4 separate regions of the Homo sapiens genome follow, and all the other regions are linked to region 4. Evidence: fine-mapped expression QTL. A gene starts in region 4. Each other region holds a variant in brackets. All regions are shown on one strand. Distances are from middle to middle.

Region 1 (8,236 bases), 47 kb after region 4:
TAACCTGTATTAGATACTATGTCAGGGAAGGCTTGAGTGAAAGTCGATAAAGAAAATCAGCCATTATTGTCCAGGTGGAAACGTCCTAGTCCTCCCATTGGCAGCTTTCCTGCTGTTTCTGCCCAAGTAGTGCAGGTGCCTGGCCAGTGGAGGGGAAGGGAGGGAAGAAGAGTCCCTTTATGTTGGCCTTGGTGTGACGGCTGTCACCCTGTGCCCCTCAGGAGCTGGTTTGAGGGCCAAGGGCTGGCCGGGAAGCTACGGGCCATCCAGACGGTGTCCTGCCTCCTGCAGGGCCCATGTGACGCTGGCAACCGGGCCTTGGAGCTGAGCGGTGTCATGGAGAGTGTGATTGCTCTGTGTGCCTCTGAGCAGGAGGAGGAGCAGCTGGTGGCCGTGGAGGCTCTGATCCATGCAGCCGGCAAGGCTAAGCGGGCCTCATTCATCACTGCCAATGGTGTCTCGCTGCTGAAGGACCTATATAAGTGCAGCGAGAAGGACAGCATCCGCATCCGGGCGCTAGTGGTGAGACGGTGGGCCTGGGGTGGGTGGGCAGGCAGCCAGGCAGGGGTCCTGGTCCAGCCGGTGTTGCAGGGTGTGGCCCCAGCACACTCCAGATGAAAATAAGGAATACTGTAATGCCAAAAAAATTAGCTAGGCTTGGTGGTGCATGCCTATAGGTCCAGCTACTTGGGAGGCTGAGGCAGGAGGATCACTTGAGCTCAGGAGGTTGAGGCTGTGGTGAGTCACGCATGTCACTGCACTCCTGCCTGGGCAACACAGCAAGACCCTCTCTAAAATAAATGGATGAATGAACGAGATTCTGGGCTTTCTTGTGGTGAGAGACATCGGCATGGCTCCTCCCTCCATGGGGCTTAAGACTGGGCCTGCAGGGGTCATGCAGTGTTCCTGGGAGCTGGTGGTTTGGGGGTTTGGGGACTACCTGGCCCTCCATGAGCCTGTTGTGGCTGTGCACCCTGTGGAAGCTGGTCTTCCTCCCTGGGGCACTCAGTCCTGGATTTCTCCATCCCATAAGGATTTGGCTGTGGCTGAAGCACCTGTCCTCTCCCCACATGCCTCTCAACTCCACCTGCAGAGGGCTTCTTTGTGCGACATGGAAGGAAACAGAGCCATTCTCAGTGTGGCCTGGGAAGGGGTGGGGCCCACGACTGTCCAGCGGCCAGCGCATCAGTGTCTGCAGATGCTGTGTCATGCGGCCACCCCAGTAGCTGATTTTCTTGCCACATGCTCTAGGTGGTGGTCTGGAGGGAGAGGGTGCTGATTTGTCTGTGTAGCTTCCAGGGGGCCATGGCAGAGTGCCAGGGAGGGAGTCCAAGCCAGGTGTGGAGGAGCTCAGCTCCTGCCTCCTTCCCCAGAGGCCAACTGGTCTTGCCCTCTTCCTCCAGGGACTCTGTAAGCTCGGTTCGGCTGGAGGGACTGACTTCAGCATGAAGCAGTTTGCTGAAGGCTCCACTCTCAAACTGGCTAAGCAGTGTCGAAAGTGAGTCATCTGGCCTTGCTGTGGTTCCCCACCTGTGGGGTAGATCTCAAGACACAGGGGTCTGGGTGGGGGTTGGGGCCTCCTCCGTCCTGCTCTCTGGCTCAGGCAGGGGCTGCAGTCTGGATCCTGGTACGTGAACTGCTTCTGTACATTGAGGGGATGCCCAAACCCTTGGTTTTTCCCCCTTGGCCTTGGTGTACCCCTCCGTACCCCCAATCCTGAGGGTCGTCCACTATCCTGCGTGTCCCCAGGTGGCTGTGCAATGACCAGATCGACGCAGGCACTCGGCGCTGGGCAGTGGAGGGCCTGGCTTACCTGACCTTTGATGCCGACGTGAAGGAAGAGTTTGTGGAGGATGCGGCTGCTCTGAAAGCTCTGTTCCAGCTCAGCAGGGTAGCTCTGTGGTTCCTGCCGTCAGCCTGGGGACACTGTCTAGGATTAGACCTTACCAGGCTTTCTCGGCAGGGCTTGGCCAATGGGGTCTTTTGACCCCAGGGAAGAGGGCTGGTGGCTGAGTGGCTGCTCTGTGTAGTGTGGGCATGTTGGCCAGCACCAGTGGTGTTAGCAAGGACGTTCTTCTTGGAGGAGCTGGGGAGGTCAAGTTTGTAAGCTCCCAAAGTCTGGGGCCTGGGAGTTTCCCGAATTCATCCTGTACCCAAGGGTCCCAGCTGAGGGTGGAATTGGGGGCCTGGGCCTGGGCAGCATTTATCTGAGTACTGCTCTGCCCCGGGATGCCCATGTGAATTCCTCTGTGTCCTGGCAGTTGGAGGAGAGGTCAGTGCTCTTTGCGGTGGCCTCAGCGCTGGTGAACTGCACCAACAGCTATGACTACGAGGAGCCCGACCCCAAGATGGTGGAGCTGGCCAAGTATGCCAAGCAGCATGTGCCCGAGCAGCACCCCAAGGTGAGGGGCCGCCAGAGGGGCTAGAGGGTTCCCCACCATGGGGACAGCTAACCCAGGGCATCCACAGCAGAACAACCTCCCTTTTTTTTTTTTTTTTTTTTTGAGATGGAGTCTCACTGTCTCCCAGGCTGGAGTGCAGTGATGCGATCTCGGCTCACTGCAAGCTCCGCCTCCCGGGTTCATGCCATTCTCCTGCCTCAGCCTCCCGAGTAGCTGGGACTACAGGTGCCCGCCACCATGCCTGGCTAATTTTTTGTATTTTTAGTGGAGACAGTGTTTCACCGTGTTAGCCAGGATGATCTCGATCTCCTGACCTCGTGATCCGCCTGCCTCAGCCTCCCAAAGTGCTGGGATTACAGGTGTGAGCCACCGTGCCCAGCCAACAGCCTCCCTTTTAAGCCAGTTTGTTTCCTTTTGTCTGGCTGTTTTATTTCCCAGTTCCTCAATTACTGCTGTGAGAAGGGTCCCCCTTTCTCTGTGAGTCAGCCTAGGCCCCTCTCCTAAGCTGCCTCCTCCCCCAGGACAAGCCAAGCTTCGTGCGGGCTCGGGTGAAGAAGCTGCTGGCAGCGGGTGTGGTGTCGGCCATGGTGTGCATGGTGAAGACGGAGAGCCCTGTGCTGACCAGTTCCTGCAGAGAGCTGCTCTCCAGGTGAGCCAGCCTTGGTAGGAGCCAACCTTTCCCAACTCCTGAGCCTCAGGGCTGCAGATGTGGCTCCAGAGGGTGCAGGTTCCAGTGCTGTGGGCCTCTTAGAGCGACGGGGGCTGCCTGCGTGGCTGCCGTCTTTGCTGAGCCTAGGAGTGCAGCGTCTGCCTGCCAGAGTCCCAGAGCTGCCTGCCCACCACCGCCTTCTCCCCACAGGGTCTTCTTGGCTTTAGTGGAAGAGGTAGAGGACCGAGGCACTGTGGTTGCCCAGGGAGGCGGCAGGGTAAGCTGGTTTACACACCCCTTCCTGATGGCTGAGCCATCAGCCTATAAAACATGACTCAGCAGCTGCCACGCCAGAGCTGGGTGTTAGATATGGAACAGAAAAACATTAATGGCCAGAGGAACACCGTCCCGCTGAGAGAGTGACGCGGAAGCAGGCAAGCTCCTTGGCCCCTCCACACTGGTGCCTGTGAAGGTCCTAGGCTCTACTGTTCCTTTGTCTCATTTACCCCCATGGCCCTGGTGCTCAGCACAATCCATGTCCAGCCCTTATTAGGTGTTTCAGGAAGTGTTTGGATGCAGAGGGTCTGCACAGGGAGTCAAGCCTGGGGAGAGGGAGGAAGGTGAGGGTGGCACGGTCAGGGCTGGGGAGCCCGATGGTCGGGGTCTTACTCCCAGGGATGTCCTGAGCAGTGACGGGCTTGTTCCTACAGGCGCTGATCCCGCTGGCCCTGGAAGGCACGGACGTGGGGCAGACAAAGGCAGCCCAGGCCCTTGCCAAGCTCACCATCACCTCCAACCCGGAGATGACCTTCCCTGGCGAGCGGGTACGTGTCTTCCTGCCCCGGCCTTTCCACTCCCTCTGTCCCTGATGGCCTGTGGGCTGGGCTGTAGCTCCCCTTTGGGACCAGCAGGAAGTTTCAGCTTTGTCAAGGCCTGGGGCAGGGAGGACAGCCTGAGACAGCAGTACTCTCTTGGGGGTGGGCTTCTCCCTGCAGGGTTGGTGGGGCTTGTGGGGGCTGCGGCAAGTACCCCTGACAGGTGGGGTGCACATTGCAGATCTATGAGGTGGTCCGGCCCCTCGTCTCCCTGTTGCACCTCAACTGCTCAGGCCTGCAGAACTTCGAGGCGCTCATGGCCCTAACAAACCTGGCTGGGATCAGCGAGAGGCTCCGGTAAGGTCCCTTGGGATTGCGGGGCCTGGACCAGGCATCGGGATTCGGAATATCCCCCACAGCAGTTTACACATTGGGAAACACTCCTTGGTCATGGGCTTCTGTGAGCCTCACAGTGACTGCTCCGCATCATTAGAGAGGAGGCGACAGGCCAAGAGGCAGCACGGCACGGCAGACTCTAGAGTCAGACTGCCTCGCTTCCCTGATTGCAAATGGGCAACCTCAAGCAAGTTACTTAACTGCTCTGTCTCAGTTTCTCCCTCTGTGAAATGGGATGATTATAGTACCTACCTCATGGCATAGTGATGAGGAGAATAAAATGAGAAAATACACCTAAAAGTACTTACTACATGGGTACCTGGCCCCTAGCATTGTGCCATATCAGTATATTTTA[GT/G]TTTTTTTTTTCTTTGAGACGGAGTCTTGCTCTGTCACCCAGCCTAGAGGGCAGTGGCATGATCTCAGCTCACCGCAACCTCTGCCTCCCAGGTTCAAGCGATTCTCCTGCCTCAGCCTCCTGAGTAGCTGGGATTATAGGCACGTGCTACCGCGCCTGGCTAATTTTTGTATTTTTGTAGAGATGGCGCTTTACCATGTTGGTCAGGCTGGTCTAGATCTCCTGACCTCGTGATCCGCCCACCTCAGCCTCCCAAAGTGCTGGGATTACAGGTGTGAGCCACTGCAGCTGGCCAGCATGTTTTAGTTTTATTACTAACTGTGACTTTGAACATATTACTCATTACTTAGCCCGTTTCCTATTCTGCAAAACAGTAGTGATGATGATCACACTTGCACCTTTAGTATAGGGCCATGGTGAGAATTAAGTAAGATGATCCAGGTGCCTGGTCAGGGTAAATACTCAAATGAGGCCGGGCGTGGTGGCTCACACCTGTAATCCTGGCAATTTGGGAGGATGAGGCAGGAGGATCACTGGAGCCCAGAAGTTCAGGCCAGCCTGAGCAGTGTAGCAATACCTCGTCCCTATTTAAAAAAGAAATTAAAGAGAATATCAGGAAGAATAGCTAATGCATGCTGGGCTTAATACCTGGGTGATGGGATGATCTGTGCGGTAAACCACAACGGCACATGGTTACCTGTGTAACAAACCTGCACGTCCTGCACATGTACCCCTGAACTTAACAGTTGGAAAAAAAATTTGCAAGGTGTGGTGGCGTGCACCTGTAGTCCCAGCTACTCGAGAGGCTGAGGCAGGAGGATCACTTGAGCCTGGGGGGGTCAAGGCTACAGCAGTGAGCTGTGATCATGCCACTTTACTCCAGCCTAGGTGACAGAGTGAGATCCTGCCTCAAAAAAACACAGAAACAAAAACCCTCAAATGTTAGGTGTTAGCCTCACCATCACGACCACCCTGGTCTTCTACATCCTAATTTTGAGCATTTCCCACAATCCTATGCTATTTCCTAGGCCTGGTTAGAAGGCTAAGAAGCACTGTAGTTCATACCTGGTGCAAGAGGGTCCTTGGACATTGCCAAGGGAAATCCTCAGCCCAGGACTTGATTGCATGAGGGTGTGGGTGCAGGGGTGGAGCAGATGTAGAAACTCTGATGATGCTGCCGGTGTTAGTCTGTTCTTGCATTGCTGTAAAGGAATACCTGAGACTGGGTAATTTATAAAGAAAAGAGATTTAATTGCTTCCTGGCTCTACAGGCTGTGTAAGCATGGCATTGGCATTTGCTCAGCTTCTGGGGAGGCCTCAGAGAGCTTTTACTCATAGTAGAAGGCAAAGCAGGAGCAGGCACATCACATGGTGAAAGTAGGAGCAAGAGACAGTCGGGGGAGGTGCCACACACTTTTTTTTTTTTTGAAATGGAGTCTCCCTCTGTTGCCCAGGCTGGAGTGCAGTGGCGCAATCTTGGCTCACTGCAACCTTCACCTCCTGGGTTCAATCGCTTCTCCTGCCTCAGCCTCCCTGAGTAGCTGGGACTACAGGCGCGCACCAGCATACCCAGCTAATTTTTTTTTGTCTTTTTAGTAGAGACAAGGTTTCACCATGTTGGCCAGGCTGGTCTCGAACTCTTGACCTCAAGTCATCTGCCTGCCTCGGCCTTCCAGAGTGCTGGGATTACAGGCGTGAGCCTCCACGCCCGGCCGAGATGCCACGCACTTTTAAATAACCAGATCTCACGAGAACTTACTATCACGAGGATAGCACCAAGCCATGAGGGACCCATCCCATGACCCAGTCACCTCCCACCAGGCCCTACCTCCAACATTGGGGATTATAGTTCAACATGAGGGTTAGAAGGGAAAACATCCAAACCGTATCCCTGCTGCTTCCTCCTGTGGCCCTGCAGGCAGAAGATCCTGAAGGAGAAGGCTGTGCCCATGATAGAAGGCTACATGTTTGAGGAGCATGAGATGATCCGCCGGGCAGCCACGGAGTGCATGTGTAACTTGGCCATGAGCAAGGAGGTGAGGGTTGGTCTGGGTGCTCATGACAGGCGGGGATGCAGAGGTACCTGTGCCCTGGCTGGGCTTTACACCCAACTGACTTGGTCCACTCCTCACATCTGGCCACAGGTGCAGGACCTCTTCGAAGCCCAGGGCAATGACCGACTGAAGCTGCTGGTGCTGTACAGTGGAGAGGATGATGAGCTGCTACAGCGGGCAGCTGCCGGGGGCTTGGCCATGCTTACCTCCATGCGGCCCACGCTCTGCAGCCGCATTCCCCAAGTGGTCAGTGCCTCTTCTCAGTGGGGGAGGAGGGACGGACCAGGAACTCCCAGCAGCAGCTGAAGGGGGCAGTCCTAGGGTGTGTGGGTGTGTCCCTTGCCAAGGTTGAGCCTGTTGCCCAGGGGTCATATCTACCCTGTTTTTCTCACAGACCACACACTGGCTGGAGATCCTGCAGGCCCTGCTTCTGAGCTCCAACCAGGAGCTGCAGCACCGGGGTGCTGTGGTGGTGCTGAACATGGTGGAGGCCTCGAGGGAGATTGCCAGCACCCTGATGGAGAGTGAGATGATGGAGATCTTGTCAGTGCTAGCTAAGGGTGACCACAGCCCTGTCACAAGGGCTGCTGCAGCCTGCCTGGACAAAGCAGTGGAATATGGGCTTATCCAACCCAACCAAGATGGAGAGTGAGGGGGTTGTCCCTGGGCCCAAGGCTCATGCACACGCTACCTATTGTGGCACGGAGAGTAAGGACGGAAGCAGCTTTGGCTGGTGGTGGCTGGCATGCCCAATACTCTTGCCCATCCTCGCTTGCTGCCCTAGGATGTCCTCTGTTCTGAGTCAGCGGCCACGTTCAGTCACACAGCCCTGCTTGGCCAGCACTGCCTGCAGCCTCACTCAGAGGGGCCCTTTTTCTGTACTACTGTAGTCAGCTGGGAATGGGGAAGGTGCATCCCAACACAGCCTGTGGATCCTGGGGCATCTGGAAGGGCGCACACATCAGCAGCCTCACCAGCTGTGAGCCTGCTATCAGGCCTGCCCCTCCAATAAAAGTGTGTAGAACTCCACTGTGTGCCCTGTCCTTGGGCAGGGAGGGCTGCTGTGAGTGGGAGTCTCTGAGTGGGTGAGTGTGGGTGAGTATGGGTGTGAGCTGGGCGTGGGTGAGTGTGCAACGGAGCTTCACAGTGGCAGACCCACCTCCATGGAAGGAATCCAATGGATTCCCCAACCAGGGCCCACTGAGTTGCTTCTTAATCCTACTGGAGGGACAAAGGGTAAGCCTAGGAAGCTAATCAATAAGAAACTCACCAGGTGCGGTGCCTCAAGCTTGTAATCCCAGCGCTTTGGGAGGCTGAGGCAGGTGGATCACTTGAAGTCAGGGGTTCGAGACCAGCCTGGGCAACAAGCAAAACTCTTTCTCTATAAAAATACCAAAAAAAAAAAAAAAAAAAAAAAAAGAGCAGAGTGTGGCGGCATGCACCTGTAATCCCAGCTACTCGGTAGGCGAAGGTTGCAGTGAGCCCAGAGCGCAGCCTCCCAAAGTGTCGCCTGGGCGACACAGCGAGACCCTATCTCAAAAAATATTAAACTATCCCAAGAAAT
Region 2 (6,523 bases), 37 kb after region 4:
GTCCTTACTACAGACTCTTATATAGTTACTGAGAATAGGTAGATACACACATATTGAAATGGGAAGCTCTGGGACACTTGTTGAATGAACAAAGCAAAATAGGCAGGGCATGGTGGTTCATGCCTGTAATCCCAGTGCTTTTGGAGGCCAAGATGGGATGATCACTGGAGGCCAGGAGTTTGAGACCAGCCTGGGCAACATAGTGAGACCCTGTTGCTACCAAAACCTAAAAAGTTAGCTGGGTGTGGTGGCACACCCTTGTAGTCCCAGCTACCTGTGAGGCTGAGGCAGGAGAGTCCTTTGAGCCCTGGATTTTGCAGTTACAGTGAGCTATGATCGTGCCACTGCACTCCAGCCTGGCTGACAGAGTGAGGCCCTGTCTCTTTCAAAAAAGAAAAGAAGAAGAAAAATATACAATAACACATATAGTATAATATCATTTATGTTAATGATCCCCTACATAGCAAAACAATGCTATATTTTTTCTGTGGGTACACTTGGGTATGTAAATACAAAGGAAAATAATTGTTTTTTTTTTTTTTGAGACGGAGTCTTGCTCTGTCGCCCACACTGGAGTGCAGTGGTGCGAACTTGGCTCACTGCAACCTCTGCCTCCCAGGTTCAAGTGAGTCTCCTGCCTCAGTCCCCCAGGTAGCTGGGACTACAGGGGCCTGCCACCACGCCCGGCTAATTTTTTGTATTTTTAGTAGAGATGCGGTTTCACTGTGTTGGCCAGGATGGTCTGGAGCTCCTGACCTTGTGATCTGCCTGCCTCGGCCTCCCAAAGTGCTGGGATTACATGTGTGAGCCACTGCACCCAGCCGAAAATATTTTATTTTTTAAATTTATTTTTATTTTTATTTATTTATGTATTTTGAGACGGGGTCTCACTCTGTCACCCATGCTGGAGTACAACCTCTTCCTCCCGGGCTCAAGCAGTCCTCCCACTTCAGCCTCCCAAGTAGCTGGGACAAATGCATGTCACCACGCTCGCCTAATTTTTATATTTTTTGTAGAGACAGGGTTTTACTGTGTTGCCCAGGTGGCTGGTCTTGAACTCCTAGGCTCAAGGGATCTACTCACCTCAGCCTCCCAACTGGCTGGGATAACAGGCGTGAGCCATGGCACTGGGCCAAATATGCATTTTTGTTTCTTTATTTTTTCAGGAAAATATTTTAAAAGATATACATCAAAATGATAACACGGTGACCCCTGGGGAAAGGAATGGGATTGAGAGGGCTTTCCAAAGGAGACTGCATCACCTGTTCATATTTTTTTAATAAAGAGAAATTGTGTAAAATACGTATATTTTTAAATTAGGAGAAAAGAATCTAAAGACCATTATGAGCTACAACCAAGCTCAAATTCGCCAGATAATTTGACGTTAAAATGCTGACACAGTGGAAGCAGATAACATGATGGCAGACACCTCACTGAAATGTTGAAGCCTGGGAAAGCAAATAGGTTTCCTCTCTCAATGCCAACTCTGATTGGCAGTGGCTGCCCAGAGTCCTATGTTGAGAAGAATTAGGAAGCAGATTGCCTGAGCCAAGCAGGGGAACGTGCCATGACTGGTTAGTCATGGCTGCCATGGATGCAAGAGAGGAAGGCGGGTGGTCCACATGCTAGGCTTGTGCCACCATCTATGCCCAGGACTCTGGGGGGTGGGGGAGTAGGCCTAGGATGATCTTCCCCATTCAGATTATTTATTTATTTATTTATTTGTTTGTTTTGAGACAGTCTTATCCTGTCACCCAGGCTGGAGTGCAGTGGATCTCTGCTGACTGCAACCTCCACCTCCCAGATTCAAGCGATTCTCCTGCTTCAGCCTCCCGAGTAGCTGGGATTACAGGCACCCGCCACCACACCTGGCTAATTTTTATATTTTTAGTAGAGACGGGGTTTCACCATGTTGGCCAGGCTGGTCTCAAACTCCTGACCTCAGGTGATCTGCCCACCTCGGCCTCCCAAAGTGTTGGGATTACAGGCGTGAGCCACCGTGCCTGGCTTCAGATTTTATTTATTTATTTTTTTGAGACAGAGTTTCACAGTTATTGCCCAGGTTAGAGTGCAGTGGCGTGATCTCGGCTCACTGCAACTTCCGCATCTTGGGTTCAAGTGATTCTCCTGCCTCAGCCTCCCGAGTAGCTGGGATTACCGGCATCTGCCACCACGCCCGGCTAATTTTTTGTATTTTTAGTAGAGATGGGGTTTCACCTTGTTGGCCAGGCTAGTCTTGAACTCCTGACCTCAGGTGATCCACCTGCCTTGGCCTCCTAAAGTTTTGGGATTACAGGCGGGAGCCACTGCGCCCAGCTCAGATTATTTTTAAAACAGTGAAAAGAGAATTCTGGAGCTAAAGGAAGTGTTAGCAACTACCTCACGATCTGCCAGCTCCCTGGCAGGAGGTATAAATGCTGAGTTCAGTGCCATGGGAAGCCCATTCACGCTGCCACAATGTAGATGGCACCACTGGGAGTGGGTTGCCTCGTAGCTGACAGGATACCTCCCCTCCGAAAAGGCACTCCAGCATCGGCGCAGCCCCTGCTGCCCAAGCAGGAAATAGCTCAGAAAGAAAAACAGGTGCGGGAAATTTAGGAGGCACTGCCAGGCAAGTCTCTTCCTGCCCAGGGTAGCTAGGTGCTAGCCCTGAGCCTGGACATCTTTACTGTGCCTCCCAGAGTGAGGAGCTGGAGACAAATGAATAGGGAGTGTGATGTCTCTGGCCAAGAGCCGTGATTTGTTCCATGCTTTGTTGGTTTGTCTAGGTGCGATACATGTCCTCGACGGATGCCAAAGTGGAACAGATGTTTCAGATACTGTTGGACCCAGAAGAGAAGGGCACTGAGAAAAAGCAAAAGGTATAGGCCCTGGGCTGAGTCAGTGAGTGAGCTCCCACTAGAGCCACCCATCCATAGGCCCCCGAAGCCACTGCTGCCTTGCTCTGCCGCTCCTCCAATCGTGCAGCTGGGCTCACGGGGCCTGGATGGGAGCTCTGAGGGTCTGGGGCTTTAGCGTGAACCAAGGAAAGAGAACCAGTGTTCACAGAGTACCTTGTTGGCCACGCCCTGTGCCAGGAACTGGGTGTACAGAGGTAACTGAGGCACTGTCCCAGCCCCTCAGGCTCTGCTGGGGACTCATTTGCTCTAACCATCAATCCCGAGAGAAGGCTCTTCCCTCTATTTACAGAGGAAGCTAAACTTCAAAGAGGTTATTTTTTGGCCGTGGTCACTCAACTGTGAAGTGGAAGCAGAGAGGTCCAGGGCTCGGGGCCCCTGCTCACCAGTGCTGCATCCTATGCCGTGTGCAGTGTCAACATTATAATGTGCTTCCTTTGACGCAGGCTTCTCAGAACCTGGTGGTGCTGGCCAGGGAGGATGCTGGAGCGGAGAAGATCTTCCGGAGTAATGGGGTTCAGCTCTTGCAACGTTTACTGGACATGGGAGAGACTGACCTCATGCTGGCGGCTCTGCGTACGCTGGTTGGCATTTGCTCTGAGCATCAGTCACGGGTAGGTGGAGTGGAGAGGCTGGTTACAGCTTCAGTCCCTTTGTCTGTCTGTCCATCCATTCCTCCATCCACCCATCTGTCCATCCGCCCATCTGCCCGTCCATCCATCCATCCACTCTTCCACCCTCTACCCCTTACCTTATTCTAAAAAGAACTTA[G/C]GTAGGTTATGGTGCCTCACACCTGTAATCCCAGCACTTTGGGGGGCTGAGGCAGGTGGATCACTTGAGGTCAGGAGTTCAAGACCAGCCTGGCCAACAAGGCGAAACCCTGTCTCTACTAAAAATAAAAAAATTAGCCGGGCATGGTAGTGCACGCCTGTAATCCCAGCTACTCAGGAGGCTGAGGCACGAGACTTGCTTGAACCCAGGAGGTGGAGGTTGTGGTGAGCTGAGATCGCGCCACTGCACTCCAGCCTGGGTGACAGAGCGAGACTATCTCAGAAACAAAACAAAACAAAACAACAAAAAAAGAAAAGGCAGAGTACAAGGAGATACATGTAACAAGAGAGAAAAAATAAAAATGGCGTGAAAAAGACCAACATAAATTAGGATGAAGTGGGGTAGAAAGAGCAAAAACAGCCTTGGGGTACCCCAAGCACTTGCTTTGTAGGGGGCTTACAAGTGTGAGCCCCAGCTTTCCTGCAGCCAACTCACAAAAACACATTGGTCACTGACTCCTTCAATGTCCATATGGCACAAGCAAGCTCATGGCCCAGAATGTGCCTGGCCACCACAGCATCTACCATCGAGACAGTGACCGGACACGTAGGGCTTGATCCCGACATGATTCTCAGCATGGATGGTGGTGGCCCAGCATGGACAGTGCAGCAATAACAGTCCTGCTCCTGGGCCAGTGTGGTGAAGTCCATGCCCCCAGCTCTTACCTGAGCTGGCTTGCTCCAGGGGAGAGGGGACCAAAGACTAGGCCCTTGGTTGCTTTTAGAGGAGCCCACAATTCCTAGATAGGGGTGAAACTGTGAAATAGTCAATGAAATCTCTTTAGGCTAAGCTTGGGCTGCATTCTGGGTCTCCCAAGGCTAAGACTGTTAAAAGCATGTGCATTCTGTTCCCTCCTGCCTTCCGGTCCATTCCAGTTCACAGTCTTGGCCAAGGACACTTAGCTGCTAAGTGGAAGCAGTCAGGATTTGGGCTCAGTGGACCAAGCAGGCCTTCTAGGGTTCTCCAGCTTAGAAACAGGGTGGAGAGGGCCCGGCGCGGTGGCTCATGCCTGTAATCCCAGCACTTTGGAAGGCCGAGGCGGGCAGATCACGAGGTCAGGAGATTGAGACAATCCTGGCTAACACGGTGAAACCCCGTCTCTACTAAAAATACAAAAAATTAGCCGGGTGCGGTGGCGGGCGCCTGTAATCCCAGTTACTCAGGAGGCTGAGGCAGGGAAATGGCGTGAACCTGGGAGGTGGAGCTTGCAGTGAGCCCAGATCGCGCTACTGCACTCCAGCCTGGGCGACAGAGCAAGACTCCGTCTCAAAAAAAAAAAAAAAAAAGAAAAAAGAAAGAAACTGGGTGGAGAGGTCTCACGGGCCCATTCCGTGTACGTGACGTCCACATCCCCAGGGTGTGGAAAGAACCTCAGGGTTTAGACTGGGGAAGAACTAGACCATTAAGCCTGGTGGTCAGGTAGCTTCGTCTAGGTATAGGTCTTTTTCTTGGGGAGGCATGAGCTAAGGCAGCTGCTCCCAGGGCTGCAGTATACTATGTCTTCTCTGGCACCAAGGAGAGGTAGTAGGGCATTGCCGTGTAATGTCTCCTTTAGGAAATCTTTCTAACAAAATTATCCTGCCATTACCCTGGGTCATGCCATCCATTCTGTGTTGTTTTCACCTGGAGCTGGGCCTTCCACCCAATTCTCTCCTTCTGGCCGTATCCTCTAACTCACAGTTAGGGATCTCTGTGGCTGCCCTTCAACAACTGGAAGCTTCCTTCTGTTTACCTCTCCCACCCCAGACAGTGGCAACCCTGAGCATACTGGGAACTCGGCGAGTAGTCTCCATCCTGGGCGTGGAAAGCCAGGCTGTGTCCCTGGCTGCCTGCCACCTGCTGCAGGTTATGTTTGATGCCCTCAAGGAAGGTGTCAAAAAAGGCTTCCGAGGCAAAGAAGGTGCCATCATTGTGGGTGAGTGGAAGCAGGTCTGGGGTCTTTTGGACGTTACTGTCATGGAAGGGATGGGGCTGAGCCAGCCAGGCCAGTTTTTTGGGGACCAGACTTGCAGCTGCAGGTTGTTTGGAATACGGTTTGGTGACATTATTTTACTCTAGATTCTCAGCAACCAAGGTGCCTCAGGACAAAGCTGGAGCTCAGTCTGGAGCCTGGGATGCGGATCCCCCCTTCCCTGTGTCTCCCTGGTTTGTTGGAGAAGTTGAAGGGTCAAACTGGGCTGGGCTGCTGTGGAGCCCACTGATGTCTTCTTGTTGTTGCCAGATCCTGCCCGGGAGCTGAAGGTCCTCATCAGTAACCTCTTAGATCTGCTGACAGAGGTGGGGGTCTCTGGCCAAGGCCGAGACAATGCCCTGACCCTCCTGATTAAAGCGGTGCCCCGGAAGTCTCTCAAGGACCCCAACAACAGCCTCACCCTCTGGGTCATCGACCAAGGTAGGTGATATAGTTCACAAAAACTTGCTTCAGCAGCTGAAGTTTGTTTATTCTTAGGAGTAATAAGAAAAGTTGTGAGTGGGGCCAGGCATGGTGGATGACACACTTTGAGAGGCAGGGGGTCACTTGAAGCCGGGAGTTTGAGATCAGCCTGGGCAACATAGCGAGACCCTGTCTCTATGAAAAATTAAAAAAAATTAGCTGGGCATGGTGGTGTGCATCGGCAGTCCTAGCTACTCCAGAGGCTGAGGTGGGAGAATTACTTAACCCTGGGAAGTCAAGTCTTCAGTGAGCTGTGATTGTACCACTGCACTACAGACTGGGCAACAGAGGGAGACTGTCTCAAAAAAAAAAAAAAAAAAAAGAAAGAAAAGTTGTGATTATCTCCAGCCACGTGTCTGCA
Region 3 (8,236 bases), 25 kb after region 4:
ACTTAGGGTCAGTGAGAAATCAATTCAGATGGTAACAGTACCCAGGACCAGCTGGGTCTGCAGTTGGCTCCTGACTCCTGACATTCTGGCTCCTGACTTTGGACCTCCCTAGTTGAGAATAAACCTGAACTAAAAATCCATGTAGTTAGGTAGTCTGGGCACAGGAAACCAAAGTGGGGTTGGAGATGCGGACTCTGTCATTCTGAATGTGACAGAGTTGAAGATTTGAGACACAGCATTGAGTGTGGAGACCTAGAGAAGGCCCCTCAGTGGAGTAGGAAGGACTGGGGTTTCCCAGTCAGCATGCCTCCCGCAAGTTTGAATATTTGTGTCCCTCTCAAATTCATACTGAAACTTAACCTCCAATGCAGCATATTAAGAGGTGGGGCCTTTAGAAGGTGATTAGGTCATGAGAGCTTCTCCCTCGTGAATAGGATTAAGGCCCTAATGAAAGAGGCTTCACACAGCCTGCCTTTTTTACTGTGTGAGGATGCAGTGACCACCTTGGAAGCAAAAAGCAGCCCTCGCTAGACACCGAACCTGCCAGCACCTTCATCTTGGACTTCCTGCTTCTAGAACTGTGAGAAAACGAATTTCTGTTCTTTATAAATTACCCAGTCTCAGGTATTTTTGTCATAACAGCACAGACTAACATACCTAGAGACTTGCATTCCAACTAGAGGCGCAAGCACACCTATAATTCTGCCCTCTCAACTCCTAATGCCAGAGATTGCTAAATAAATACTAAAAATGTAAAAACAGGCCGGGCACAGCCCAGCACTTTGGGAGGCCGAGGCAGGCAGATCACCTGAGGTCAGGAGTTCCAGACCAGCCAGACCACCATGGCGAAACCCCATCTCTACTAAAAAATACAAAAATTAGCCGGGTGTGGTGGTGGGCGCCTGTAATCCCAGCTACTTGGGAGGCTGAGGCACGAGAATCACTTGAACCCAGGAGGCAGAGGTTGCAGTGAGCTGAGATCTTGCCATTGCACTCCAGCCTGGGCAACAGAGCAAGACTCCATCTCAAAAAAAAAAAAAAAAAAAAAAAAAAGAAAGCAAAAACTGTCAAACTCAAAATAAAGGAAATCTTCTTTGACAAAGAATGGAGAGAATAATACAGCCATTAGCAGAGGCTGAGGCTATACAGCTTGAGAGAAGTAGAGACTAGTTCAGGATGGTAGGTGCTGGGACTTCAAAGTCCACGTGGGACAGGTAACCAAGTGTAACCTAGGAACGTCAAGGGACCAGAACCAGACTCTGAGAGGTACACAGGCAGGAAAAATGTAAGTTGCAAACAAAAACAGGATGACATGCAAGCAATCTAAAAAAATACTTTAAAAAATATATATGTGCAATCACCAAAGAGCTAAAGATATTCAGTCTTGCAATGAGAAACTGACTGAAAAGAAGCAAATAAGATTTTACAAATTATACATGCTGGAAATGTAAAAATACAATTATTGAAATATACTCTATGTATGGTATAAGCCCTAGACTGGAGGCAGATGACATAAAAATTTAGCAGGTCTGGAAAACAACTGAGGAATCACCCAGAATGCACCACAGTGATAAAAGAAATATAAAAAAGAAGCTAAGACAGATGGAGGATAGACTGAGAAGCTTTGGCATAATGTTTCATAGCAGTTTTAGAAAAAAAGACTAGTGAGAATACAGGGATGAGAAAACAAAGACGGTGAATTTTTCAGAACTGAAGAAAGATGTGAGATCTCAGAATCAAAGAGCTCATTAAGTTCCAAGAAAGGTACATTTAAAAAAAAAGGCCAGGCCGGGTGCGGTGGCTCATGCCTGTAATCCCAGCACTTTGGGAGGCCGAGGCGGGTGGAACATGAGGTCAGGAGATCGAGACCATCCTGGCTAACATGGTGAGATCCCGTCACTACTAAAAAAATACAAAAAAATTAGCTGGGCCAGGTGGCAGGCGCCTGTAGTCCCAGCTACTCAGGAGGCTGAGGCAGGAGAATGGCGAGAACCCAGGAGGCAGAGGTTGCAGTGAGCCGAGATCGCACCACTGCACTCCAGCCTGGGTGACAGAGCAAGACTCCATCTCAAAAAAAATAGATAGCTGGGCGCGGTGGCTCACCCCTGTAATCCCAGCACTTTGGGAGGCCGAGGCGGGCGGATCATGGGGTCAGGAGATCGAGACCATCCTGGCTAACATGGTGAAACCTTGTCTCTACTAAAAGTACAAAAAATTAGCCGGGCATGGTGGCGGGCGCCTGTAGTCTCAGCTACTTGGGAGGCTGAGGCAGGAGAATGGCATGAACCCGGAGGCAGAGGTTTTAGTGAGCCGAGATCGCGCCACTGCACTCCAGCCTGGGCGACAGAGTGAGACTCCGTCTCAAAACAACAACAACAACAACAAACAAACAAATAAATAAATAAACAGGCCAGGTGCAGTGGCTCATGTCTATAATCCCAGTACTTTGGGAGGCCAACGTGGGCAGATCACTTGAGGTCAGGAGTTTGAGACTAGCCTGGCCAACGTGGTGAAACCCTGTCTCTACTAAAAATACAAAAAAACCCAAAAACCAGAAAAATCAAAATGTAGCGGGGCATGCTGGTGTGTGCCTATAGCCTGTAATCCCAGCTACTTGGAAGGCTGAGGCAGAAGAATCGCTTGAACCTGGGAGATGGAGGTTGCAAATAGCCAAGATCATGCCACTGCACTTCATCCTGAGCGACAGAGCACGACTCCGTCTCAAAAAAATTAAAACAATTTAAAAAACCTCGTGTAGATATATTGCAAATTACGTAAGATAAAACCTAAAGGCCAGGCACGGTGGCTCACGCCTGTAATTCCAGCACTTTGGGAGGCCAAGGTGGGTGGATCACCTGAGGTCAGGAGTTTGAGATCGGCCTGGCCCACATGGCAAAACCCTGTCTGTACTAAAAATACAAAAATTAGCTGGGCTGGTGGCATGCGCCTGTAGTCAAAGCTACTCAGGAGGCTGAGGCAGAAGAATAGCTTAAACCAGGGAGGTGGAGGTTGCAGTTAGCTGAGATCATGCCACTGCACTCCAGCCTTGGCAATAGAGTGAGTGGGATTCACTCTCAAAAGAGAAAGGCAAATATAAGAACTTATTGAGAAACTGCAGGAATGAATATAACCTGTTGTACAACCATGGTTTAACTGTAGATTTTTAGCCTAGCTTTTTTTTTTTTTTTTTTTTTTTTGAGACGGAGTCTAGCTCTGTCGCCCAAGCTGGAGTGCAGTGGCGTGATCTCGGCTCACTGCAACCTCTGCCTCCCAGGTTCAAGTGATTCTCCTGCCTCAGCCTCCCAAGTAGCTGGGACTAAAGGCGCCCGCCACCACGCCTGGCTAATTTTTTGTAGTTTTAGTAGAGACAGGGTTTCACCGTGTTAGCCAGGATGGTCTTGATCTCCTGACCTCATGATCCACCCGCCTCGGCCTCCCAAAGTGTTGGGATTACAGGCGTGAGCCACCACACTGGCCTTTTTTTTTTTTTTTTTTTTTGAGACGGAGTCTTGCTCTGTCTCCCAGGCTGGAGTGCAGTGGCATGACCTTGGCTCACTGCAACCTCCGCCTCCTGGGTTCAAGTGATTCTCCTGCCTCAGCCTCCCGAGTAGCTGGGACTACAGGTGCCCGCCACCATGCCCGGCTAATTTTTTTGTATTTTTAGTAGAGACGGGGTTTCACCATGTTAGCCAGGATGGTCTCGATCTCCTGACTTCGTGATCCACCCGCCTGGGCCTCCCAAATTGCTGGGATTACAGGCGTGAGCCTCTGCACCCAGCCTGCCTAGTGTGTTTCTTTGGAACTTATCAAAATGTCTCTGGAGGCCGGGCACGATGGCTTCATGCCTGTAATCCCAGCACTTTGGGAGGCCAAGGCAGGCGGATAACTTGAGGTCAGGAGTTTGAGACCAGCCTGGCCAGCATGGTGAAACCCTGTCTCTACTAGAAATACAAAAATTAGCCGGGCGTGGTGGCACACATCTGTAATCCCAGCTACTAGGGAGGCTGTGGCATAAGAATCGCTTGAACCCAGGAGGCAGAGGTTGC[A/G]GTGAGCCGAGATTGCGCCACTGTACTCCAGCCTGGGTGACAGAGCGAGAATCCATCTTAAAAAAAAAAAAAGGCTCTGGAACATTTCATTTCCTGTTTTGTTACTGACCTGTGACTCTGTAAAAGTCTACTTTCGCAATTTGGATTAATAATTTTATGAATGCAAATTGGAGATGCTGTTCAAAAAAAAAAAAATAGAAAAGTCTTACAAAGGAAAGACAATCACAGTGATAGCAGACATCTAGTTAGCTACAGTAGACACCTGGAGTCCATTCAAACCTAGAGAAAACTCAGCCTTGAATTTGCTATCAGCTACACCATTCAAGAGCACGGGGGAAATGAAGACATTTTCAGACATGCAAAGACTCAACAGTTTGCAATGTACAAAACTTTAGTGGAAGAAAGTAGGTGTACTTAAGCAAAAAGAGAATTTGTCTAGGGGCATAAACTAATGAGAGGGAGGGTACACCTAAATACTGGCTATAAATGTAATACTAGTTTATAGTTTAAAAAGAGGCAGGAACTAAAATTCTAGAAAGCAATATTGTGAAGAGTTATTCAAGGCTGGGCACAGTGGCTCACGCCTGTAATCCCAGCACTTTGGGAGGCTGAGGTGGGCAGATCACCTGAGGTCAGGAGTTCGAGACCAGTGTGGCCAACTTAGTGGAACGCCATCTCTACTAAAAAATAAAAAATAAAAAAATCCAAAAACAGGTACTAAGAGGACAGACCTTGCATCAAATGGTGCTAGGAAAACTGGACATCCACAAGCAAAACCATACATCATATATTTTGTATATGGTGTATATACAAAAAAATTACACCATATACAAAAATTAACCCAAAATGTTCTTGCCACAAAAACAACAAAAAATTGGGTAACTACGTGAAATGATGGATGTGTTAATTTGCTTCACTATAGTAACCTTTTTACTACCTGTATGTAGCCTCATAACATCATGTATACCTTATACCAAATTAAATTGATTTAAAAAGAAATTTAACCCAAAATGGATCAAAAACTTTACTTGTAAGAGCTAAAACGATAACTTTGGGAGGCCAAGGCGGGTGGATCACCTGAAGTCAGGAGTTAAAGACCAGCCTGGGCAGCAAGGATAAATCCCGTCACTACTAAAAATACAACAATTAGCCATGCGTGGTGGCGCACGCCTGTTATCCCAGCTACTCGGGAGACTGAGGCAGGAGAATAGCTTGAACCCGGGAAGCGGAGGTTATGGTGAGCAGAGATGGCACCATTGCACTCCAGCCTGGGCAACAAGAGTGAAACTCCGTCTCAAAAAAAAAAGCTAAAACGAAAGCTCCTAGAAGAAAACAGGAAAAGCTTCATGGCATTAGATTTGGCAACGATTTCTTAGATATGACACTAAAAACACAGGCAACAAAATATATAAAGTGGACTACAACAAAGTCATCTTTTCTTAAAAAAATCTCGTTATCTTACTCCCGCAAAACTATTTAAAAAAATTAAGTTCAAAGTTCTCCAAAATGTACCATACCCTGGGGATTACTCTGAACTTTGTTCATTTGTTTTCTTTTAATTCGGCTTTTTTGGTTGCCTTTCACCTACTTTTTCGCAGAGCCCTCCGCTGGGGCCTTCACTTGGGCAAACAACTATCGTAGTCGAACAGCTTTGACCTAACAATTTCCTCGTACCCAAGATGATCGCTTTTCCAGACAACTTAATAAACTTTGGCTTTAATGGATGACTGGATGCAGAATAAAATACATAAAAATAAACCTCAGCTGCTCAGCAACGACTGAAAAACCACCACCGGGCAATCCCTCCCCATGGCCACCGAGCAAAGTTCCACCGCCTCCCCTACGCCGACCGCCGGGCTCCCGGGGTCGGACAGCCCCGGGCCACTTCCGGGCCTTCCCGGAAGTCCCTGTCACTTAACAACCGAAGTAACCCGCAATGCGGAAGGGCGAGGGGATTGCGAGTCACCGAGTTTCCCGCGCGGCTTGAGGTACTGGGGAACCGGAATCCCCCACCGGCCCAATCATGTTGCTGCTGGGGTCTCTCCGGTGCCCAGCAGTGGTTGTCAGTAAGCGGGCGGCACTCCCTTCCGATACGTCTTTTCTTTTTTCATTTTTGAGACGGAGTCTCGCTGTGTCACCCAAGCTGGAGTGCAGTGGCGCGATCTCGGCTCAGTACAAACTCCGCCTCCCGGGTTCAAGCGAGTCTCCTGCCTCAGCCTCCTGAGTAGCTGGGATTACAGGCGCGAGCCACTGCGCCCGGCTAATTTTTTTTTGTATTTTTAGTAGAGACGGGGCCTCGCCATGCTGGCCAGGCTGGTCTTGAACTCCTGACCTCAAGTGATCCGCCCGCCTCGGTCTCCCAGAGTGCTGGGATTACAGGCGAGAGACACCGCGCCTGGCCCCCTTCCAACTTTCTTAACGGGAAAGGCTGCTACCATTTCTTGAGCACCTATGTGTCAGGCTCCATCAGGCACGTCACAGTCTAACCTGATAATTACACAACCCATGTCACTGACAAGGAAGCCAGGTTCGGAGGGGTTGAGGCCCGCAACCTGAGGGAGGTGACTCCGGGACACACAATTAGTCCTGCTTTGCTGAAGGAAAGATATGCAGCCCACCAGTCGGAGGCTGGAGAAGGAGCAGCAGCAGCTTAAACCTTAACCCAGAGTTATTTTTATTTTCCAGAACGTGTTAGGAACTAGTACTTAAATAATCTCAAGTCCCTGAGGGGCCAGAGATCCCACCATGCAAAATAGCAAACAGACCCAAGACTTGGGGAGAGGCGGTGAGTGCATCAGAAATGGATGGGTACATCTGATTCCCACCACGCGGGGCTCAGCTTAGTTAGCAGGAGACCTTCAGACTGAGAAAAAATGCAAGTCTTTTTTTGGCCTCTAATATCTGGGAAGGATGGAGGGAGCTCAGGAGACACAGAAAAGATGGCGTATGAATCCTGTCCGGCCTGAACGAGGCTGGAGTTGTGCCTCTGGATAGCTTCAAGCACTGATCAGATTGTCAGCCCCCGCTGCTTGAACAGATGCTTTAGAGCCTCTTCCAGTTGCCGGTTTGTTCCCTGAAGCCCCTTCACCACCTGCGCTGCCCACTCGAAGTATTCCTGGACTCGATGTTCTGACCATCCTGCATAAGAGTCGACAGAAACTTGCTAGCGTGATGTCAAGGAAAGCACTGCCTTTTCCCCACTTCCTGGCAAGCTTGGTTCAAGGCCATGAGTTCCTGATGGAATGAGCTGTCCTGAAAACTTCCCCTTGGCCCAGCTATTGTATTTTTACTGTATGAAAGAAGATCAAAGAGTGGTCCAGTAGGATTAATTTGGGAATTAAGAATGCCCAGGGTTTTTCAGGGGAACTGACCAACATGTGTCTTCAGAAGGCGGCATCCCCCTCCCTTTTCCCTTACAGCCCATACGAAAGCGTACCCTCTGGGGTGCAGCGATTCAGGTCCCTCAGATTGTACAGCTTGTCTGCCAGCTTCACCAGTTTGGCCCCGGGGCTACTGTGGGGCGCTTGCTCCACCTGCAGCCTCTTTCTCTCCAGCTTGGGCAGAGTCTTGTCATCTGTTACCTCCTCCACCAGGCGCCGCACTTGTGCCCCAAAGTGTAGCTCCACCTCATCCAGGGTGGTGTCTGTGTCCTCCACCGTGTCATGGAGCAGGGCCGCCTGGGGACAAGTTCCCACTCAGCCCTGAGATGTCAGCCAAGGGTTGCCCATTGCTGAATGGGGCCCCTAATCCCCATCCCAGGCTCCTGGCAGAGAAGGGGGAAAGTTACCTGTAACACCACAATGTCAGTGATTCCCGCCTCGTGGGTCAGGATCCGTGCCACACCTGACGGGGAGGGGCAAAGCAGGAAGTCAGGTCGGAGGTAGTCCCAAGGCGGTGTGTTGTGGGTTTTGGAGAGCCAGATGTGGCCCCTTGTGGACTCTGACTAGCTGGGTGACCTTGGTCAAGTACCTTACCCTCTGGGAGCCAACCGACAAAGGGAACGATCATGCCTACCGTTCCAATTGTTATGAGGCTTAAACGGTATATCGCACTAAGCTTGGGACAAAACAGGTGCTCAATGAGGTGCACGCCCCCCACGTTTCCTTCCCAGTCCCCACCACCCAGGTGCCGCAGCCGGCGCTCCGCGGCCGACGCGCCCACCGATGGGGTGGTTGATGTAGGGGGTCCCC
Region 4 (8,236 bases):
CACTATGGTGTGCTTAGGGACTGCTTGGCCACTTAACACGGGAACATTTTGGGTAGATGGGAATGTCCTGCATTTTGATCTGGGTGGTGATTATGCTTGTGTATGTATTTATCAAAACCCATCAAGCTGTACACTTAAGATTTGTGCCACACAGTGTAAACTGTACCTAAATTTTTAAAAAAGAACCACCAGACAACAAACAAGAATTCTTGAAAATTGAGATTATCAGGCTGGGCGCGGTGGCTCATGCCTGTAATCCCAGCACTTTGGGAGGCTGAGGTGGGCAGATCACCTGAGGTTGGGAGTTCGAGACGAGTCCAACCAACATGGAGAAACCCTATCCCTACTAAAAATACCAAATTAGCCAGGCGTGGTGGCAGATGCCTGTAATCCCAGCTACTCAGGAGGCTGAGGCAAGAGAATCACTCGAATCCAGAGGCAGAGGTTGTGGTGAGTGGAGATCACGCCATTGCACTCCAGCCTGGGCAACAAGAGCAGAACTCCCTCTCAAAACGAAGGAAAAAAGAAGATTATCACCAAAATGAGGCTGAGCACGGTGGCTCACGCCTGTAATCCCAACACTTTGGGAGGCCGAGGTGGGCAAATCACCTGAGGTCAGGAGTTCAAGACCAGCCTGGCCAACATGGTGAAACCCCATCTCTACTAAAAATACAAAAATTAGCTGGGCATGGTGGTGCGCGCTTCTAATCCCAGCTACTCGGGAGGCTGAAGCACAAGAATCACTTGAACCTGGGAAGCAGAGGTTGCAGTGAGCTGAGATCACGCCACCACTCTTCAGCCTGAGCGACAGAGTGAGACTTTGTCTCAAAAAAAAAAAAAAAAAAAAAAAAATTACCAAAATGGAAAATTCAATAGAAGGGCTGGAAAATAAATCTCCCAGAACACAAGGCAAAATATGAAAAGACAAAGAGGATGATGAGCCCAGTCTAGGTCTAACACCCTAATAACAGGCATTCCAGTGAGTAAACAAACCTGGAAAGCTGTTCCTGATGGTGATAAAAGAAGTGGCAGTCGAGTGCAGTGGCTTATCCCTGTAATCACAGCACTTTGGGAAGCTGAGGCAGGAGGATCAAGGCCAGGAGTTCGAGGCTGCAGTGAACCATGATCACACCACTGCACTCCAGCCTGGGTGACAGACAAGAGCTTGTCAAAAACAATAAAAAAATAAAAAGAGCTGGGCACTATGGCTCATATCTGTAATCCTGGAACTTTGGAAGGCCAAAGTGGGGGGATCGCTTGAGCCCAGGAGTTGGAGAACAGCCTGGGCAACACAGTGAGACCCTCCCACCCACCACAAAAAATAAAAAAATTAGGGCCGGGCACAGTGACTCACGCCTGTAATCCCAGCACTTTGGGAGGCTGAGGCAGGTGGATCACCTGAGGTCAGGAGTTCGAGACCAGCCTGGACAACATGGTAAAACCCCATCTCTACTAAAAACACAAAATTAGCCAGGTATGGTGGCACGTGCCTGTAGTCCCAGCTATTTGGGAGGCTGAGGCAGGAGAATCGCTTGAACCTGGGAGGCGGAGGTTGCAGTGAGCCAAGATCGCGCCATTGCACTCCAGCCTGGGCAACAAGAACGAAACTCCGTCTCAAAAAATAAAAATAAAAAAATTAAAAAATAAAAAAATTAGCTGGGTGTAGTGGCACATACCTGTAAGGCTCAGCTACTCAGGAGGCTGAAGTGGGAGGATGGCTTGAGTCTGGAAGGTCAAAGATGCAGTGAGCTGAGATGGTGCCACTGCACTCCAGCCTGGGAAACAGTGAGATATTGTCTCAAAAAAAAGAAATGGTCGTTAAATAAGAGATAGCATTGATCATTCTCAGCAAACTAACACAGGAACAGAAAACCAAACACCGCATGTTCTCACTAATAAGTGGGAGTTAACAATGAAAACACATGGACACAGAGAGGGGAACATCACACACCGGGGCCTGTCGGGGGTTGGGGGCAAGGTGAGGGAGAGCACCTAATGTATGTGGGGCTTAAAACCTAGATGATGGGTTGATGGGTGCAGCAAACCACCATGGCACATGTATACCTATGTAACAAATCTGCATGTTCTGCACATGTATCCCAGAACTTAAAGGAAAATTTTTAAAAATGAGATGGCATTATATATCTCATTAATCAGCTAAAACATTGTTTAAGCAATATCCAGCAGTTTGTTATTGATGGTGTAAACTGGTACAGTCTTTTGGGGGAGCGATAGTGTCATCAGTCATCTCTGTCCTTATCTTTTGCCCGGGTAACTTCACTGTTGCAAATTCATCATAAAATAACGTCTTAATCTGTTCGGGCTGTTAGGACAAAATACCATAAAGTAGGTAGTTTATCAACAACAGAAATGTATTTTCTCACAGTTCTGGAGGCTGGAAAGTCCATGATAAGGCATAAGCGGATTCAGTGTCGGGTGAGGGCCTGCCTGTGGTGCACAGATAGTGCCTTCTAGCTGTGTTCTCACGTGGTTGAAGGGGCCGACTCTCGGGGTCATTTGATACCGGCACTAATCCCATTCATGAGAGCTCTCCCTTCAAACTCTGTTCACCCCCAAAGGCCCATCTCCTAATACCATCATCACCTTGAGGGATTAGGATTTGAACATGAATTTGGGGGGTCACATTCAGATAATGTTATATATAACTTAAAAAGAACAAAAATGTGGAATTCATGGAGATGTTCATTGCAGTATGGATTACACTGAAAAACTGTAAACAACCTAGATGCCCAGTAAAAGGGAAACAGCCAAGAAAAGTCTGTGTCTTGTTCACTCGCTGGCAGGAAACATAGAGCAGGCACGGAAAGGAAAGGGACTCGAGGAATGCGCTGTACCGACAGGAGGCAGCACCCCTTTGCCCGAGGGGCGCAACGACAGAGACCTAAGGCTACCTGGGCCGGAGCCGGGTGAGGCCGCGGAGAACGCACCCCGCTACGCGTCTGCCGAGACGGAGGCGGGCGTTTCGACCACTGCCCGATCATGCGCTTACTCAAGTAGGATTCCGAAAAAATTCAGTCGCGCGTCCCTCCTGAGGTTCCGCAGCTGGCCAGGCCCGGCCCGGGCTGGTGCGGCTGCGCACTGCAGCCCAGCGGAGCGGGCCCGGGAGGAGCCGGGCGGGGACCGCGGCGGCCAGAGCTCCTGTCAGCTCCGCCGGGCACACGCAGGCCGGGGCGGGCGGCGCGGCTGTCCCCGCCCCGCACGCTGCTGGGCCCGGCAGCTTCAGAGGCTGGCGGACCCGCGCGGGGCCGGCGCAGCGGAGCGCGCCGGCGGCCCGGGGCCCAGCGGGAGCGCGGCAGCGGCGCGCGGAGCAGGGGGCTACGGGTGGGCGGGCGCCCGCCTTCGCCTGCGTCGCTGCCTGCACGCGGGCCGCCGTCCCCGGGCGTGTGAGAGCCGGCAGCTCGGCCGACTGGGCCCGGAGCGGCGCGGAGGCCGGGCGCTGACGGTAACGGGCCGGGTGCGCGCGCGGGAGGGCTCCGGCTGCCCCGACAGAGGCCGGGCTCGGGCGGCGGGAGTGCGAGCGCCACTGCGGCGTCAGAGGGGCCAGGAAGGGACAGGAGGCTGCCTGAGGCCCGTACCTGGCGCCTGTCTCTGCGGTCCCCGGGGCCGACGAAGTCGGAGCGGGTGGGGAGGGAGCCGGGCGGGCGGCCAGAGACCTGGCGGCAGGTGCCTGCCCTCTGTGATCCAACTCTCTCCCCAGCTCCACCCACATTGGCCTAGACCCAGTCTCTAAGGGCTGAAAATATTGCCCGGAAGCTCCCGAGCAGAATCAGATCGCGCTAAGTAGGGCACAACGCAGAGGCGACAAAGCTCCTCGGCCCCAGGGCCCGCGGAGCAGACTCCGGAGCGCGGTCCCGCCCACGCTCGGCTCCGCAGTTAGCGTCCTCCTTCCTCCTGAGCAGGCAAGCGGAGCCCGAGGGCGGTGGCGGCGGGGGGCACGGGTCCCCTGAAGTTGCCTCGCAGCTGAGCACTGGGCCCCGTCTCTCCCTTCCCAGGGGGCCTTCGGCGTCACTGCAGGCTTCCTAGGGGTCCCCTAAGTGCTCTGCAAACCGCGGCTGGAAGTTTCCCACTGCAGTGAACAGTAGAGAAACAGGGAGAACACACAGGGCTTGCTTTATGCTAGAAACACAAGCATCTTTCTTCTTTATTAGAAAGAAACTCATTCTGTGTTTCTGAGAAAGGATCGTGCCAGGCACTGTTTCTGGTGAGTGCCAGTTTGACCCGAAAGGGCACTGAGAAAGGCTTTCCTATCAGTCTCTTTGGGTTCTGGCTAAACTTTTAAATCAAACAAAATAGAGACTAGCTTATTCACCTGAAACTAGAAGCACATGGCCGAGGAGCCTGAACAGGCACCTCCTATCTAGGCAGGGAAGCTGTGTAATCAGGAGCTTGTGTGGTGCGCTCCAGTCGGAGCTGGGACTCTTATCCTGGGCCCGTTTTTCATAGCACCAGCCAAAGGAGAGCGTCCTCTCCACCCTAGCGGCAGAGCTGCTACCAGGACCAGGTGGGCCAGCCTCAGATGTGCTGCTTGTGCTACTTGGAGCCAGGCAAATGGGTGTTCCTTTGGAACAGCCCTCAGGAACTCACTGGGGTATTTGGTGGAAAGACTGCCACGGGCATTTTGCATGTTGGAGCTACAGATGGTGTCCTTCCTGCCAGGTGTGTGTGGAGGCCAGTATGAAGCTGAAAAAGCAGGTGACAGTGTGTGGGGCTGCCATCTTCTGTGTGGCAGTCTTCTCGCTCTACCTCATGCTGGACCGAGTGCAACACGATCCCACCCGACACCAGAATGGTGGGAACTTCCCCCGGGTGAGTCGTGCCTGGTTGCTAATTTCTTTGTATACAAGTCACCTGGGCTCAGGGTATGCACCTCCCACCCCGCCGCCTCCCCTCCCACCCCCCGCTGGAGGGTAATGTCAGTACAGGACAGGAGCCTTCCTTCCCAATAGTCAGGTTTTGTAGAAACCCTCAGCTAAAAACAGTGATGGCGAAAAGAAGGAAGGAAGAAAAAATGTCAATGGCAATGAGTATTGTCACTCTGTTCTCCTGAATTCTTTTCTTTCTTTTTTTTTTTTTTGAGACAGAGTCTCGCTCTGTCGCCCAGCCTTGAGTGCAGTGGCGCGATCTTGGCTCACTGCAACCTCCGCCTCCCAGGTTCAAGCAATTCTCCTGCCTCAGCCTCCCAAGTAGCTGGGACTACAGGAGCCTGCCACCATGCCCGACTAATTTTTGTATTTTTAGTAGAGACGAGACGAGGTATCGCCATGTTGGCCAGGCTGGTCTTGAACTCCTGACCTCAGGTGATCCACCCACCTTGGCCTCCCAAAGTGCTGGGATTACAGGTGTGGGCCACCGCGCCCAGCCCCTCCTGAATTCTTGGCAGACATTGCTAATTGATTGCAGCATTCTTTGCCATTAAGCCCCGCTGAAATCCTCAGCACAGGCAACACCGATTGTTGAGAATAGGTAGGTGAAAGGAAATCTTTGCCATCCCTGAGCTAGAGAGTGATGGTTCTCCCAACCCAAGTGGAGTGTAGTCCTCAGTGGTGATCTGCACAGCTCCCTTTATCTGAACGGTGTCATCTATCCCTCTAGGCTCATGGTCTGGCTTTGACTGATGAGGGAAGAATTGTACTCAGGCCTCAGCTGGTAGACCCCAAGCAGAGACCCTCCCTGTGGCATAAGGAGCTGTGTGTGATTGCTTTCTGGTTTTTTGGCAGAGCCAAATTTCTGTGCTGCAGAACCGCATTGAGCAGCTGGAGCAGCTTTTGGAGGAGAACCATGAGATTATCAGCCATATCAAGGACTCCGTGCTGGAGCTGACAGCCAACGCAGAGGGCCCGCCCGCCATGCTGCCCTACTACACGGTCAATGGCTCCTGGGTGGTGCCACCGGAGCCCCGGCCCAGCTTCTTCTCCATCTCCCCGCAGGACTGCCAGTTTGCTTTGGGGGGCCGGGGTCAGAAGCCAGAGCTGCAGGTAAGAGTCAGAGCTGGCAGGGACGTACAGTGGCCACGACTGGGGTACTGAGCTGCAGTTCACCTGGCAGATGCTCACTGTGTCGGAGGAGCTGCCGTTTGACAACGTGGATGGTGGTGTGTGGAGGCAAGGCTTCGACATCTCCTACGACCCGCACGACTGGGATGCTGAAGACCTGCAGGTGTTTGTGGTGCCCCACTCTCACAATGACCCAGGTGAGGGCCCTGCAGACTCCTGGGAGCTGGAGTGTGGAGTGGGATTTCTGATGGCCAATACAAGGGAGGGACGTCGAAGAAGATGGTGGCATCCTCAGGGGACCCTACATTGGCTCCCTAGGCTGGATCAAGACCTTTGACAAGTACTACACAGAGCAGACCCAACACATCCTCAATAGCATGGTGTCTAAGCTGCAGGAGGACCCCCGGCGGCGCTTCCTCTGGGCAGAGGTCTCCTTCTTCGCCAAGTGGTGGGACAACATCAATGTCCAAAAGAGAGCGGCAGTCCGAAGGCCAGTACCAGGCGGGGAGGCATGGGAGGGCATTGTCTGAGCCCCAGGCTGGGTGGACGGGTCTTACCTTAAGCTATGGGTGCCAAGGTGGCAGGGAGAGGCCCAGAGAGCTGTGGAAGAGATGAGTGATGGTGGAGGGAGGGAAGGCAAAAACAGATAGGTTCCGAGATAAGCGGGGCCAGGATAGCCTGGAGGTTGGCTGTAAGGAAAGGAGGGCAAGTGTGTGTTCTCTTGGTCCTGGGATTGGGAGAACTGGTCCAGTGAGGCCAGTGCACACAGGCCCTGACATTTGCTGGTTGGCAGGACTGGGCAGAGTGTCCTGCTCCGTCCTGAGTGTGAGTCCTTAACTATAGGCTGGTGGGAAACGGGCAGCTGGAGATTGCGACAGGAGGCTGGGTGATGCCAGATGAGGCCAATTCCCACTACTTTGCATTGATTGACCAGCTCATCGAAGGACACCAGTGGCTGGAGAGAAATCTTGGTAAGTCCAGGCCCAGGCATGGGGGTCTGCCCCCTGGGCTGTAAGGCACAGGCAGGGGCTGTAAGGCACAGGGATCGGCAGGGGGTGGTTCCTTTCTAGGCAGATCCCACCATGTGGGCCTGGTGTGATATCATCTCTCCACTCACTACCAGGACAAGAGCTGGGGTCCCAGCACCTGGAAGGCCGGGGGGCCAGCCCCTGAGGTGTGTTCAGGGCCTCTCTGGCTTCCATGCCCTGCCCAGGTGCAACCCCCCGCTCTGGCTGGGCAGTGGACCCCTTTGGATACAGCTCCACCATGCCTTACCTGCTGCGCCGTGCCAACCTCACCAGCATGCTGATTCAGAGAGTGCACTATGCCATCAAGAAGCACTTTGCTGCCACCCACAGCCTAGAGTTCATGTGGAGGCAGACATGGGGTAAGGCCGGGTAGGGTAGAGGGGGTTACTGCAGCATAGTCTTCACTGGGGAACAGCAGGGATATCAGAACTAAGACCCCCACTGTTCTTCAGAGCAGACCTGCAGGCACTGGTGTGGACTGCCAGAAATGGTCGCACCCTCTGGTTAGGGGAGGGCCATATTGACCTCTGGCCTCTACAGGGCCTGCTGTCCCAAGGGCTTCAGCGTGCCCTGTGTGCCCGTCCCCTGAGGGAGCCCCTCATGTCTTTCTCCCTGGCCTACACACTCTCTCCAGCCCTAGGTCCAGTTACAGCCTCGCGGTCTATCAGGGCTGCCTTTAGCCTGAACAGATCCTTGCCCCCCTGGCGTCCAGAGGCTGCCTGCTGGTGGTGACCACGTGGTGTGTCTCCTGCAGACTCGGACTCCAGCACAGACATCTTCTGTCACATGATGCCCTTCTACAGCTATGACGTCCCCCATACCTGTGGCCCAGATCCCAAGATCTGCTGCCAATTTGATTTCAAACGCCTGCCTGGTGGGCGCATCAACTGCCCTTGGAAGGTGCCACCCCGGGCCATCACAGAGGCCAACGTGGCAGAGAGGTATCTGCTTCCAGCCCTTTCACTTCACAGAGGAATCGGGAGGCCTGGCTCTGGTCTGGGCCGTGCCACGTGGAGGGTGGGCTCAGGTGGTGAGTTGAGGCTCCTAGCCTCTGCAGCAGCAGCTCCTTACTAAGTCTCCTGAAAAACTGGAATGGCTCTTGCAACCACCTTTCACAGAATGCTTTTAGGTTCTCACATGAGTACTTCTTGATGCCCTAACAAACTGCCAGGGCCAGCTGACAACTTAGAGGTG

The links. PIP is the estimated chance that this variant, and not a neighbour inherited with it, causes the effect.
Region 1: its variant is fine-mapped to the expression of MAN2A2 in whole blood (INTERVAL, PIP above 0.99).
Region 2: its variant is fine-mapped to the expression of MAN2A2 in whole blood (GTEx, PIP above 0.99).
Region 3: its variant is fine-mapped to the expression of MAN2A2 in whole blood (TOPMed, PIP above 0.99).

What each region holds. Positions count from the first base shown.
Region 1 is chr15:90,946,393-90,954,628 of GRCh38, forward strand. UNC45A (unc-45 myosin chaperone A) reads left to right here. Exons shown (of 20, transcript NM_018671.5): 10 at 222-522; 11 at 1,404-1,498; 12 at 1,750-1,891; 13 at 2,262-2,402; 14 at 2,924-3,051; 15 at 3,262-3,328; 16 at 3,762-3,875; 17 at 4,108-4,223; 18 at 6,537-6,654; 19 at 6,763-6,918; 20 at 7,067-7,701. The coding sequence ends at 7,324. It overlaps RCCD1-AS1 (RCCD1 and UNC45A antisense RNA 1), which reads right to left and starts at 8,101. Exons shown (of 2, transcript NR_170325.1): 1 at 7,943-8,101; 2 at 5,846-6,813. RefSeq lists enhancers at 6,849-7,349, 8,174-8,236. The variant GT/G (reference allele first, on the strand shown) is at 4,618.
Region 2 is chr15:90,936,963-90,943,485 of GRCh38, forward strand. It overlaps UNC45A (unc-45 myosin chaperone A), which reads left to right. Exons shown (of 20, transcript NM_018671.5): 5 at 2,769-2,861; 6 at 3,344-3,511; 7 at 5,475-5,643; 8 at 5,950-6,120. Among named protein-coding and RNA genes, the nearest start is that of UNC45A, 4.9 kb to the left of the region's middle. The variant G/C (reference allele first, on the strand shown) is at 3,669.
Region 3 is chr15:90,924,222-90,932,457 of GRCh38, forward strand. It overlaps HDDC3 (HD domain containing 3), which reads right to left. Exons shown (of 4, transcript NM_001286451.2): 1 at 8,208-8,236; 2 at 7,834-7,889; 3 at 7,483-7,723; 4 at 5,747-7,184. The coding sequence ends at 7,054. It also overlaps a transcript of UNC45A not described here. Among named protein-coding and RNA genes, the nearest start is that of HDDC3, 4.2 kb to the right of the region's middle. RefSeq lists enhancers at 5,636-5,865, 7,496-7,725. The variant A/G (reference allele first, on the strand shown) is at 4,047.
Region 4 is chr15:90,899,513-90,907,748 of GRCh38, forward strand. MAN2A2 (mannosidase alpha class 2A member 2) reads left to right here and starts at 3,790. Exons shown (of 23, transcript NM_006122.4): 1 at 3,790-3,920; 2 at 4,678-4,827; 3 at 5,739-5,996; 4 at 6,067-6,211; 5 at 6,333-6,504; 6 at 6,858-6,985; 7 at 7,228-7,401; 8 at 7,797-7,983. The coding sequence starts at 4,696. RefSeq lists enhancers at 2,831-2,880, 4,721-4,780 and silencers at 3,051-3,320, 3,341-3,770.